4 separate regions of the Homo sapiens genome follow, and all the other regions are linked to region 4. Evidence: fine-mapped QTL for protein levels in blood plasma. A gene starts in region 4. Each other region holds a variant in brackets. All regions are shown on one strand. Distances are from middle to middle.

Region 1 (2,688 bases), 29 kb before region 4:
GTTCGTAAGGCAAAGGTTTATGTCTGGGCCCTGGGAAAATTTGGATGAGATAAAAAGGTCAGGAGTAGATTTTGAATGTTTGTCTGGTGAAATTACTATGCTTAGTTTAACTCTATACATGACAGAATATACTTGGGGAAAGATAAATTCCATTTTTGCAAGATCACTTTTCTAAGAATTTTCTAAAAAAAGATGACTAATATGTTCCACAAGCTTGGATCACTATAGATAAAAAGCAATTTTGTTGGGAAGTCTATCCACAAACCACAAAAGCCTAGCTTATATTTTCACGTACGCTCTTTGCAAAATTTCTTAGCTTTCCTACAACATTCAAATAATTCTTTTAGGAATTATTCTTAGAAAATATATATCTGCAAATGACATTTTAGACTATAAAAATCAAGGTCATGCTTCTCAGGGCTACATCTGTATTATCCCTGACATATATTTAGACATACAGATCTTCCACGAGGCTTTTTGGGAAGAAACATTTCCTGATTTAGCACCAGATACAGTTGGAGGAAGGATTAGAAATAAGACTTTATTCATAAATATCTTGAAGATTATTAACAACATAGTAAATTCTTAGCATGAGATTTTTAAGCAAACACATGGTACTGGCTCATTTTAAGGTTAAATAAATTACAATTTCATAACATAAAAAATGTTTTGAAGCTTTGCGTACTGTAGGCAATTATAACTTTGATTTACTTTGTAAAACATTTGAAAATCCAACTTATTTTGTCTTGTATAATGAGTCATAAAATTTCAAATTATCCCCTTTTAAACAAAATCCACACTATACTGCAAATGGCTTACCTTTAAAAAGTTATTCCTAGCTCTTGATTTCTTCTCTTCAAACACACAAAAAAATGTTAGATTGGATGCTATCTAAGGCTCCTTCTAATTCATCATCTCATGATTTGGCTAGTTACTGAGAGGACTGACTGTTCATAGGAGGTTAACACCAGAGGTCCTGAGTTGACTTTAATCTACTCCACTAGAATTAGGAAAATAATGGTCACTTACAGGTAAAGGATCGAAGTTTTCATCCACTAAATGGTAGTTTCCTGCTCCAAAGAATACTTGCCTCATCACCACTTCTATTCCCATTCGGGCTGACAGG[C/T]CCAATTTATCCAGCCACCTGGGACAGAGCAAGACCAAGCTTTCTTGAGGTTTGGAAACAAAATCGCTCAATTCTAATTGCACACCATCTTGATTTTATTTATGTATTTATTTATTTACTTATTTATTTATTTAGAGACAGGGTCTCACTCTGTCACCCAGGCTGGAGTGCAGTGGCGTGATCATAGCTCTCTGCAACCTCAAACTCCTGGGCTCCATTAATCCTCCTGTCTCAGCCTCCCAAGTAGCTGGGACTGAAACCGCCTTTGCAAAAATTATAACTGAGGAAATTATGACAGTGAAAGAGATCAGACCTCATTGACTCCATCTTGCTTCTAACCTTTAAGCTGTCCTTCTTCATTCCTGGGTGTAGGCTGAACTAACTTTGGGAAGAAATTCAGTTCATGGTTTGACTCTGAAACAAAAATGATAATAGCCCTTTTCTGAAAAGACCCCCTTCTTGCCTGGGGACAAGTCTACCTTTGCAGGACTAACAAATTAGCTACAACATTAGAGATTACGGTTTAGGGATAATGCAGCCTCTGGCTCCAAGAGTCTGAACCTCCCCAAATTGTTCCTGGGGATAACATCACTGTTGTAAAACCTAAGATCAGTGCTTGAGATATCTTGCAGACCCTGAACTGGGTGGATCATTTGAGACCACCCAGACCGGTAATCTGGCCCAACCAGTTCTGCCATCCCATCCAGGAACAGAAGACAGCAAGAAAACCTCACTTCCACTCCCTGTGATTCCATCTCCAACCTGACCAACCAGCACTCTCCACTTCCTAAGCCCCTACCGGCCAAATTATCCTTAAAAGCTCTGATCCTCGAATGTTCGGGGAGACTGATTTGAGTAATAATAAAACTCTGGTCTCCTGCACAGCTGGCTCTGCATAAATTACTCTTTCTCCTTTGCAATTCCCCTGTCTTGATAATTGGCTCTATCTAGACAGCAGGCAAGGTGAACCTGTTGGGTGGTTACAGGACCACAAGTGCATGCCACCATGCCTGGTTCTGGTTTATTGATCTTTGAGGGAGGAATTAACAGGAAGCCAGAAAAGTGTCATCAATTATAAATAAGTCATTTAAATGAAATGGCAACTGCATGCAGCAGCAGCAGCAGCAGCAGAATCCCTCCCTTTACATCTTTCCATATGATAACAAATCCTAGAAGACTATTACCATGCTAGAGGTATCCCTTTCAGGGTGAGACAAATTCCCACCTCTATAGACAATTCCTGGTCCTATGAGGTCCCTGCACAAACAATGTGTGAGGGCTGAAGAAAAAGTGGCAGTCAGCGGGGGTAAAATGTAAAATAAGCAGAATTGCACCTAAGCTATTATGGACACCTCTTCCCACTTCTCCTTCTCTATCCCCCTTCTCCCCGACACCCCAGATCTTTAGTTAATGGCAAAACAAACATCTCCATTCTTTATTCCTCTTGCTTCCATGGGCATAAAGGATTTGTGATGTATTCTAGGCTTATAAGAATGAGGATGAGAGAAAAAAGAATGAAGATGGAAGAGAAAAGAAAAAAAATCTCAATGTGAGGATATAGC
Region 2 (2,688 bases), 33 kb before region 4:
GCAAGTACTTGGTGACATTATGGAGGTTTATGGCATACAGAGTTAAATCTCCTTCTTTATACCTTGGACTAAAAGCAAAGAGGTTAACTTAATAGAAATATGTATCTAATTTAAGCAATTAAAAACTCAATTACAAATGTGATCCTAAGTATTAGTATCCATAATGACAATCCATAATGCATCCTAAGTATTAGGATCCATAATGACAGTGGGCCCTCTTAGTATCCTTCTTTTATGATCGTTTTAGACCGCTAGTGTGCTCCTATTTTGAAAACACAATTAAAAATGTTGCCGTTCATGCTACCAATGTCTGGGCTAGAGCACACTGAGATCCTCACAGCTCTGCCAGCTGGGTTGTTAAGAGGCCAGCCAGACTATCCATTTTCAGACATAGGAAGGTAAAAGGCAAATTTTGTGGGTTCATGTGAATTCAAATTATAAACCATAAAAACAGGGGCTTTTCCTAGCCTTATAAAAAGACTGAAATGTATAAGAAAATTAAATCTACTGACATTTTTTATGAATTTATCCATTCAAACCATTCCCCTCGCTACTTCCTACTGGGGTCCTCACTATCCAGAGTTCCCAGTCACCAACAATCGGAAATGGTAGCTGGTCTTTTTTGGCTAGAATTAGTATTTCAGCATCATCTTATCAGGAATGATAGATTGAAACCTATCTAGAGAATATTCCTGAGATTTAGGAACATTTTTTGCTACCTAAAGCAAGAGTATGAGGCTACAAAAATCTCGATGTCTTCTCAACTCCAGAAACTGCGGTCACAACTTTTGAAAATAATATTGTTGTTATTATTGTTCTCCTCTTCAAGAATCACTTGAACCCGGGAGGCGGAGGTTGCAGTGAGCTGAGATTGCACCACTGCACTCCAGCCTGGGTGACGAGCGAGGCCCCGTCTCAAAAAACAACAACAACAAAAGTAGCATTTTTCTTCTAAAAATAAAATAAAATAAAATCGTTGTATAAAACTTTACTAAATTGCAACTGCCTATACTTATGCAATGTATAGACACATGCAACAGGGTGTTTGAGTAAAGTTACAGGCTTACCCACTAAAACTTGATGATTGGTAAAGGGTGTGTTTCATACTTACTTGTCAGTGTTTGTGCAATGAAGGTATACTCGAAGCTTCCTTCTCTTTGAACCTTGCACGCTTGCCATTAACACCTTGGTGCCCACCAATTTCTTGAACAGAAGAGATAGCCAATAATCCTAG[T/C]TGTGGTGGTTGGGGAGAAAGAGACAAAAATAGATGTTTACTTATGTCCTTATTTAATGAAACCAGTGGCAAGCAAATAGTTATCCTACAAAGAGTATCACTGTTATCCTGGGGGCATTTAAATAGGATTCATCTTTTTTTTTTTTTTCCCCTCACATGTGACCACCATGAATCTGAGAGCAGTATCGTGCTTGCTGCTTTTTATCACTGGAGGACACAATTCAAAAGGCCATAGCCTGTAGGGGATATCTGTCAAGAATGATCAGAGTTTAAGTATTCTTGGTTATCGTTCATCCAAGAATTCAAAGCAAAGCTCAAAGCCAAACTTTTAGACACACACACATACACAAACACATGTACACACAAAGACAAATTTTTAAAGTAAAACTTCTGTCTGTTTAGAGACAAATAATTTCATTTAGGCCAGGCACGGTGGCCAAAGTGTAATCCCAGGATTTTGGGAAGCTGAAGTGGGTAGATCACTTGAACCCAGGAGTTCAAGACCAGTCTGGGAAACATGATGAAACCCCTTCTGTACACAAAATACAAAAAATTAGCCAGGTGTGGTGGTGTGCACCTGTAGTTCCAGGTACCCAGGAGGCTGAGGTGAGAAGATCACCTGATCCCAGGAGGTCAAGGCTGCAGTGAGCCGTGATTGTGCCACTGCACTCCAGCCTGGGAAACGAAATGAGACACTGTCTCAAAATAACAGTTAAAAAAATCTTAAAAAAAAATTTATTTTAAAACCTTATTCCCCCCACCCCAATAAAGTAATGGATTAGGCAATGGTCATCAGTAGCTGTCAAGATCAAAACCAGACACAACCAGACATTCTGTGCTTCCAGAAGCAGATAATAAAGAATTCTTGCAAAAAAATACAATTAAAAACCTGAATAAACTCAAGCTTCTAGGTATAACTACCAGTTTACAGGAAACACAGGGGACAGAGGAACATGCTAAATGATATCATAGGGAATAAATTTAGCAAACTCTATAATGTAGGAAATACTATAGAACAAATTACCTGTTTTTTCACATTAATAAATTACAAGAGATGAAAGAGAGGGAGGAATAACTTAAAGATGAACAAACTTAAGAGACTTATCAACCAAATGTAATATATGGACCTTGTTTGGATTCTGATTTGAATAACTATCAACAATATTTTAGACAAGGAAAATGTGAGACACTGACAAAATATTTGGTGATACTAAGGAATTATTGTTATTATTTAAAGTATGATAAAAGTATTGTGTTTTTACAAAAAGGATACATACTAAAATATGTATTTTTTTGAGACATGGTCTTACTCTGTCACCCAGGCTGGAGTGCAGTGGTGTGAATGCAGCTTACTGCAGCCTCAACCTCCTGGGCTAAAGCGATCCTCCTGCCTCAGCCTCTCATGTAGCTGGGACCACAGGCATGTGCCACCATGCCCAGATAAGTTTTTGATT
Region 3 (2,688 bases), 39 kb before region 4:
CTCGGCCTCCCAAAGTGCTAGGATTACAGGTGTGAGCCACTGCGCCCAGCCATTTTTAATAACTTTAAATAAAGACTGGTTGTGGTGGCTAATCGCTGTCCCCACAGGTATTATAGTCTTTCGCTGACTAGCAACACTGCACAGAGGTAACATCAAATGATCTCCTGCTGTACCATGCTGTACTCCCAAAGAAATCCCAGCACCTGGAAGGCCAAGGTGGGAGGATCAATTGAGTCCAGGAGTTCAGGACCAGTTTGGGTAACATAGCGAGACCCCATCTCTACAAAAAATTTTTTAAAAATAGCCAAGTGTGATGGCATGTGTCTGTGGTCCTAGCTACTTGGGAGGCTAAGCAGGAGGATGACTTGAGCCCAGGAGTTAAAAGGCTGCAGTGATCTATGATTGCACCACTGCACTCAAGCCTGGGCAACAGAATGATACCCTGTCTCAAAAATAAAACACTGCTGGGTGTGGTGGCTCACACCTGTAATCCCAGCACTTTGAGAGGCTGAGGCGGGTGGATCACTTGAGGACAGGAGTTCGAGGACAGGAGTTCGAGACCAGCTTGGCCAATATGGCGAAACTCCATCTCTACAAAAAATATAGAAAGTAGCTGGGCGTGGTGGCACACGCCTATAATCCCAGCTACTCAGGAAGCTGAGGCAGGAGAATTGCTTAAAGTTGCAGTGAGCCAAGATCGCACCATGGCACTCCAGCCTGGGTGACAGAGAGAGATTCTGTCTCAAAATAAATAAATAAATAAATAATAAAACAAAACAAAACTTTAGATAAAAGTAAAACATGCAAAATGCTAAGCAGTATTTGGAACAAGGTATTATTAGCTATTATTATTAGCAGTGTTCTACCTAGCGAGATCAAAATACTGTGCTAAATCTAGCACTGACAGTGTCCCAGTGTCTCTCAAGCACCCACTAGTTGCTTTGCAAGGTATCTGCTTCCTTTCCTATAACTTGAGTTGCTTTACTCTTAGTATACTTGAAAAATTCAGTGTCAGGACTAGTATATTTTATTTTCAGATGCAAGCAGCAACTTTGGCATTTCTTATCACAAAAAAACTATATGAGAAAGCTGGCAAGCCCAGTGAACTTCCTGGCCGGAGAGGTTTTTCCATTAAAGGTGGCAAGGTTTGATCATCCACCATCTTTAGAGTTAGACCATTGAGTT[G/A]GACAGATCTGCAAAGGAGAAAGATACACCGAGTTAACCAAGTGGTGCATGCCCCACCCATGCTGCTACAAAAGTCATGAAATCTTTTTTAGACCAAATAAATTTTTTTTTGTGGCAGCCTATATTATATAACTTGTATTTCAACACTATATCACTTAGGCATTTGACCTAGATAATCTTTAAGCTACAATGGCAGGGATGAGTAGTTATGATAGAGACCATATGGACTCCAAAGCCAGAAATACTTACTGTCTGGCCCATTACAGAAAATGGAACACACACAATCTATATACTAGGCAATATGATGGTGGTATAAAAAGGATAAACATGACACAACTTCTGGAATGGTGGCTATTTTATTTAATGGCCAATAATTGAAACCTTTTTTATGTAAAGAAAATAGATATATAGAATTGAATGCAGTTTTTATGAATTTAGCATAAATGGTAGCCAATGAAATTTCTCACTTGTAACTATGCCCATAAACTGCCTAACTCCCCTCTCCCTGCAGGAGGTATGCATTCATTTTCTTACTGTTATTAAGAAATTTTGGTAGAATGCTGTGGTGAAACAAAAACAATTTGGCTAAACTACAGAAAATTTTATATTTTCTATGTATTTCACTATTGGAATTCAAATTAAAAACTGTTGAACGTTCTTAAAAATTAAGGAAAAGTGTTATTTCTTATACATACTTATTATTTAAATCAAATTAATGCATATTCACAGGAGCGAATCAATATAGGCAAGAGCTTATGAAGAAAAGCTTTAGTCGGCTGTAGGTCTATTGATATTTTCATAATTCTAAATAAGATGCTTATATCTCTTTTTCTCAAATATGTTTTATATTGTCAACAAAGTTAGCACTCTTTAAATATTGAAAACTTGTAAGATTAGGCCGAGCACAGTGGTTCACACCTGTAATCCCAGCACTTTGGGAGGCTGAGGCAGGCAGATCACTTGAGGCCAGGAGTTCAAGATCAGCCTGGCCAACATGGCAAAACTCCATCTCTACCCAAAAATACAAAAATTAGCCGGGCATGGTGGTGTGTGCCTGTAGTCCCAGCTACTCAGGAGGCTGAGACATGAGAATCGTTTGAACCTGGGAGGCGGAGGTTGCAGTGAGCCGAGATTGCACCACTGCACTCCAGCCTGGTAGAGCAAGATTCTGTCTAAAAAAAGAAAAAAAAAAAAAAGAAAAGAGAACGTATAAGATTAGTTACTGTCAGAGTTATATTTATATCATTTAGGTAATACATGTAAAGTATGTAGAACACTTATAACAGTGTCTTTTATATAGTAAACACTATAAAAGTATTATCTATCATCATTATTATTACTAAGATAAATAAAAGTAACCTAAGTCATTATAACCATTTTAAATATTTTGATGTATATTCATTCTTTCATCTATTTTTTGTGTACATGTATACAGTCATATGCCACATAAGGATGTTTTGGTCCACCATGGACCGCATATATAAGTGTGGTTCCATAAAATGA
Region 4 (2,688 bases):
AGGTCTCATTTATTGAATATTTAGATTTTTATTCCTGTTCTGTGACGCCCTTTTCATCTGCCTAAAAAAAAAAAAAGAAAAGAAAAAAGAAAAAGAAAAGAAAAGAAAGAGAAATCTTCCTAACACAGTCTTAAATACAGAAGGCTATGCACAATCTTACTTGTCCTACACTGCACAGCAAATCAAGCACTCACAGGCCTTCAGGTGCACCTGCCTGGTTTCCCTCCTCTTGGCTAGGGAAGTACTGGGGCAAGTGGGCAGTTTCTTTTTCAAATTTCCACTTATACCTGACCTTAGGTGGTGCCTATTCAACACTTACAGAATGAATGAAACAAAAAGGCTCATTTAGAGTGGGCGCTAAACAATGTGTACACATGGACTTAGTGGAATAGTAGACACTGGAGACTCCAAAAGGTGGGAGGGTGGGAGAGGGATGAGGGATGAGAAATTACCTATTAGATACAATGTACAACATTCGGGTGACAGTTACACTAAGAGCCCAGATGCCACCACAATGCAATATACCCATGGAACAGAACTGCACTTGTAACCCCTAAATCTATTTTTTAAATGATACCCCCCAAAAAGCAGTTTGGGGTCTGAGAGTAAGGGAGGGAGAGGGAGAATGAGAGGCGGGAAGTGGGGTGGGGAGAGACAGGCGGGGAGGTTCCGGTGTGAAGTTGTTTCCGCGCAAAAGAAGGAGAGCGGCTGGCGGGGCAGACATAGGTGTCAGGAGGACAGGAAAGGGGACAGGACCAGGAGGCTGGCGCTTACCCCAGGAGGATGAGGAACCGCGGGTCCGTGGCCAGGTTGGCGTCAATGGTGACGGACAGGAACGAGGGGCTCACCAGGTGCAGCGGCTCCTGGGTGAAGAAGTCCAGGTCCACGACGTCCTGTGCTTGCGCAGGTCGGGGCAGGGCGCCAGGGGAGAGGGGACCCAGCGGCCCCAGGAGCAGCAGCATCAGCGGCGGCGGCAGCGCAGGCTTCGAGCGCAGCAGCATCTTGGGCTCACCTGGCTGCTCCCCCCGCCAGCTGCCGCGCAGCGGAGAGTCGAGAGCTCTAGCACTTCCTCCCGCCGAGCCCCAGCGCCCTTTTCTCCTTTCCTCCGCCCCGTTACGCCTCCTCACCCCTCCCACTGCGCCCTCCATCCCTCCCACTCCTCTTCTGCATCCCTCCCACTGCTCCCAATCCAACCCCGCCCCGCCTGCCCGGCTCTCTCCTACTTCCTTGCTCGCTTTCCCCTCGGTGGCGGTCACGTTCACTTACGAAATCACCCACACCCACTTGAAGGGTGCGGAGATGGCCGGGATCCAAGCGCCCGGGAGGCCTGGGGAGGAGCGCCCGGGGAGGAGCGCCCGGGGAGCAGCGCTGGGCATCCCGGACCAGGCTTCCTGACGCACGTGTTCTGCGCGCTCTCGTGGGAACCCAGCGTTTCCGACTCCCAGATCCCATTCTGATGGCGCCGGGTATCCCTCTGACCCTCGAGTAAAACCTCCAATGGAGTATTCATCCCTTCCTCTCCCATCTAGCTTATAAACACTTGCTTGTCACTTGAGCCAGCCAAAATCTGATTGTCCTCTGGCCAGGCAGTTTCTCAGGTATTTTACTTTTGCTTGAAAAAATCTGGCCTCAGCATACGCTAAACTGCAGCTGGAAAGAGATCAACCACCCAAAATTCTTTATCAACTTCTCATTAAGACAATATTTAGCAATCTTAAAGGGTTAGTTGCTCCAATGTCTGGAACTCAGGACCTGAAGCCCCCATACAAAGTGTAGAGTACGGACTGCCCCTGAATTTGGAGCCTTTGCCAAATTTCTCCTCTGCGCATTTATCTTTCGCTGTTGGTCAGACTTTTCTTCAGCTTTTCCTTGATGCTTACACTGATGTATAATCATAGCAAGCATCGCACGCTTAGTGCCTACTGTATGCCTGATACAGGTGCTTTACTTGTGTTCTCTTCCCTTCTCACAACCCTGCCAAGTGCATACTGTCCTTGTTTTACACATGCGGACCCAAGCTCTGAGACAGTAACTGGGTGAAGTGTCAGAATCGGGATGTGAAGTGTCAGAATCGGGATGTGAATGCAGTTACAAAACCTCGAGCAGATGGCAGTGTGTTTCAGCTGAAATGTAACTTCCCTCAAGGAAGCTTTCTCTCAATCTCCAGGCAGCTCTCCATGACACACTCTCATAGCATCCTCAATTTGTTAGACACTCTCGTAGCATCCTCAATTTGTTAGACACTCTCGTAGCATCCTCAATTTGTTAGTATTGTGATGTTGCTCAACATTGGCTTCATCTACTAGATTATATGCTCCACCAAAACAGAGATTAAGTTTGTCTCACACGCTATGCTAGCCATAGCTCAGGCATGTGATCATGTTGGTGCTTAGTAAGAGTCTAATAAATATTGGTTGAGTAAGCAAATAACACCAAAACCCTTAGATTTTTCCACTTGAGATTGTACCACCAATAAGGCAACAAATAAAAATAGATTATTTTGAAATGCATATCTAATTTGCATAAATCAGGCCAGGCATGGTATGTGATGCCAGTGATGCCATCATGCCTGTGATGCCAGCATTTTGGGAGGCCAAGGTGGGAGGATTGCTTGAGCCGAGGAATTCAAGAACAGCCTGGGCAACATGATGAAACCCCATCTCTACAAAAAATACAAAAAATTAGCCA

Direction of the effects. Alleles are on the strand shown, and positions count from the first base shown. The strength of an association depends on the size of the effect and on how common the allele is. Not every link is listed here.
For the plasma level of the protein whose gene starts at base 1,067 in region 4, T is the low allele of the variant in region 1 and C is the other (weak association).
For the plasma level of the protein whose gene starts at base 1,067 in region 4, G is the high allele of the variant in region 3 and A is the other (weak association).

What was found. PIP is the posterior inclusion probability: the model's chance that the variant is causal. The UK Biobank Pharma Proteomics Project read protein levels with antibody pairs (Olink). The fine-mapping took linkage between variants from a reference panel, not from the people measured, so its PIPs are less certain.
Region 1: its variant is fine-mapped to the plasma level of the HPSE protein (UK Biobank, PIP above 0.99). The variant lies in the coding sequence of HPSE. If it changes the protein, the assay may bind it differently, which can mimic a change of level.
Region 2: its variant is fine-mapped to the plasma level of the HPSE protein (UK Biobank, PIP above 0.99).
Region 3: its variant is fine-mapped to the plasma level of the HPSE protein (UK Biobank, PIP above 0.99). The variant lies in the coding sequence of HPSE. If it changes the protein, the assay may bind it differently, which can mimic a change of level.

Annotation. Positions count from the first base shown.
Region 1 is chr4:83,305,174-83,307,861 of GRCh38, forward strand. It overlaps HPSE (heparanase), which reads right to left. Exons shown (of 12, transcript NM_001098540.3): 9 at 1,030-1,144. Among named protein-coding and RNA genes, the nearest start is that of COQ2, 22 kb to the left of the region's middle. The variant C/T (reference allele first, on the strand shown) is at 1,127.
Region 2 is chr4:83,301,039-83,303,726 of GRCh38, forward strand. It overlaps HPSE (heparanase), which reads right to left. Exons shown (of 12, transcript NM_001098540.3): 10 at 1,112-1,230; 11 at 1-68. Among named protein-coding and RNA genes, the nearest start is that of COQ2, 18 kb to the left of the region's middle. The variant T/C (reference allele first, on the strand shown) is at 1,235.
Region 3 is chr4:83,294,311-83,296,998 of GRCh38, forward strand. It overlaps HPSE (heparanase), which reads right to left. Exons shown (of 12, transcript NM_001098540.3): 12 at 1-1,193. The coding sequence ends at 1,034. Among named protein-coding and RNA genes, the nearest start is that of COQ2, 11 kb to the left of the region's middle. The variant G/A (reference allele first, on the strand shown) is at 1,186.
Region 4 is chr4:83,333,782-83,336,469 of GRCh38, forward strand. It overlaps HPSE (heparanase), which reads right to left and starts at 1,067. Exons shown (of 12, transcript NM_001098540.3): 1 at 775-1,067. The coding sequence starts at 1,001.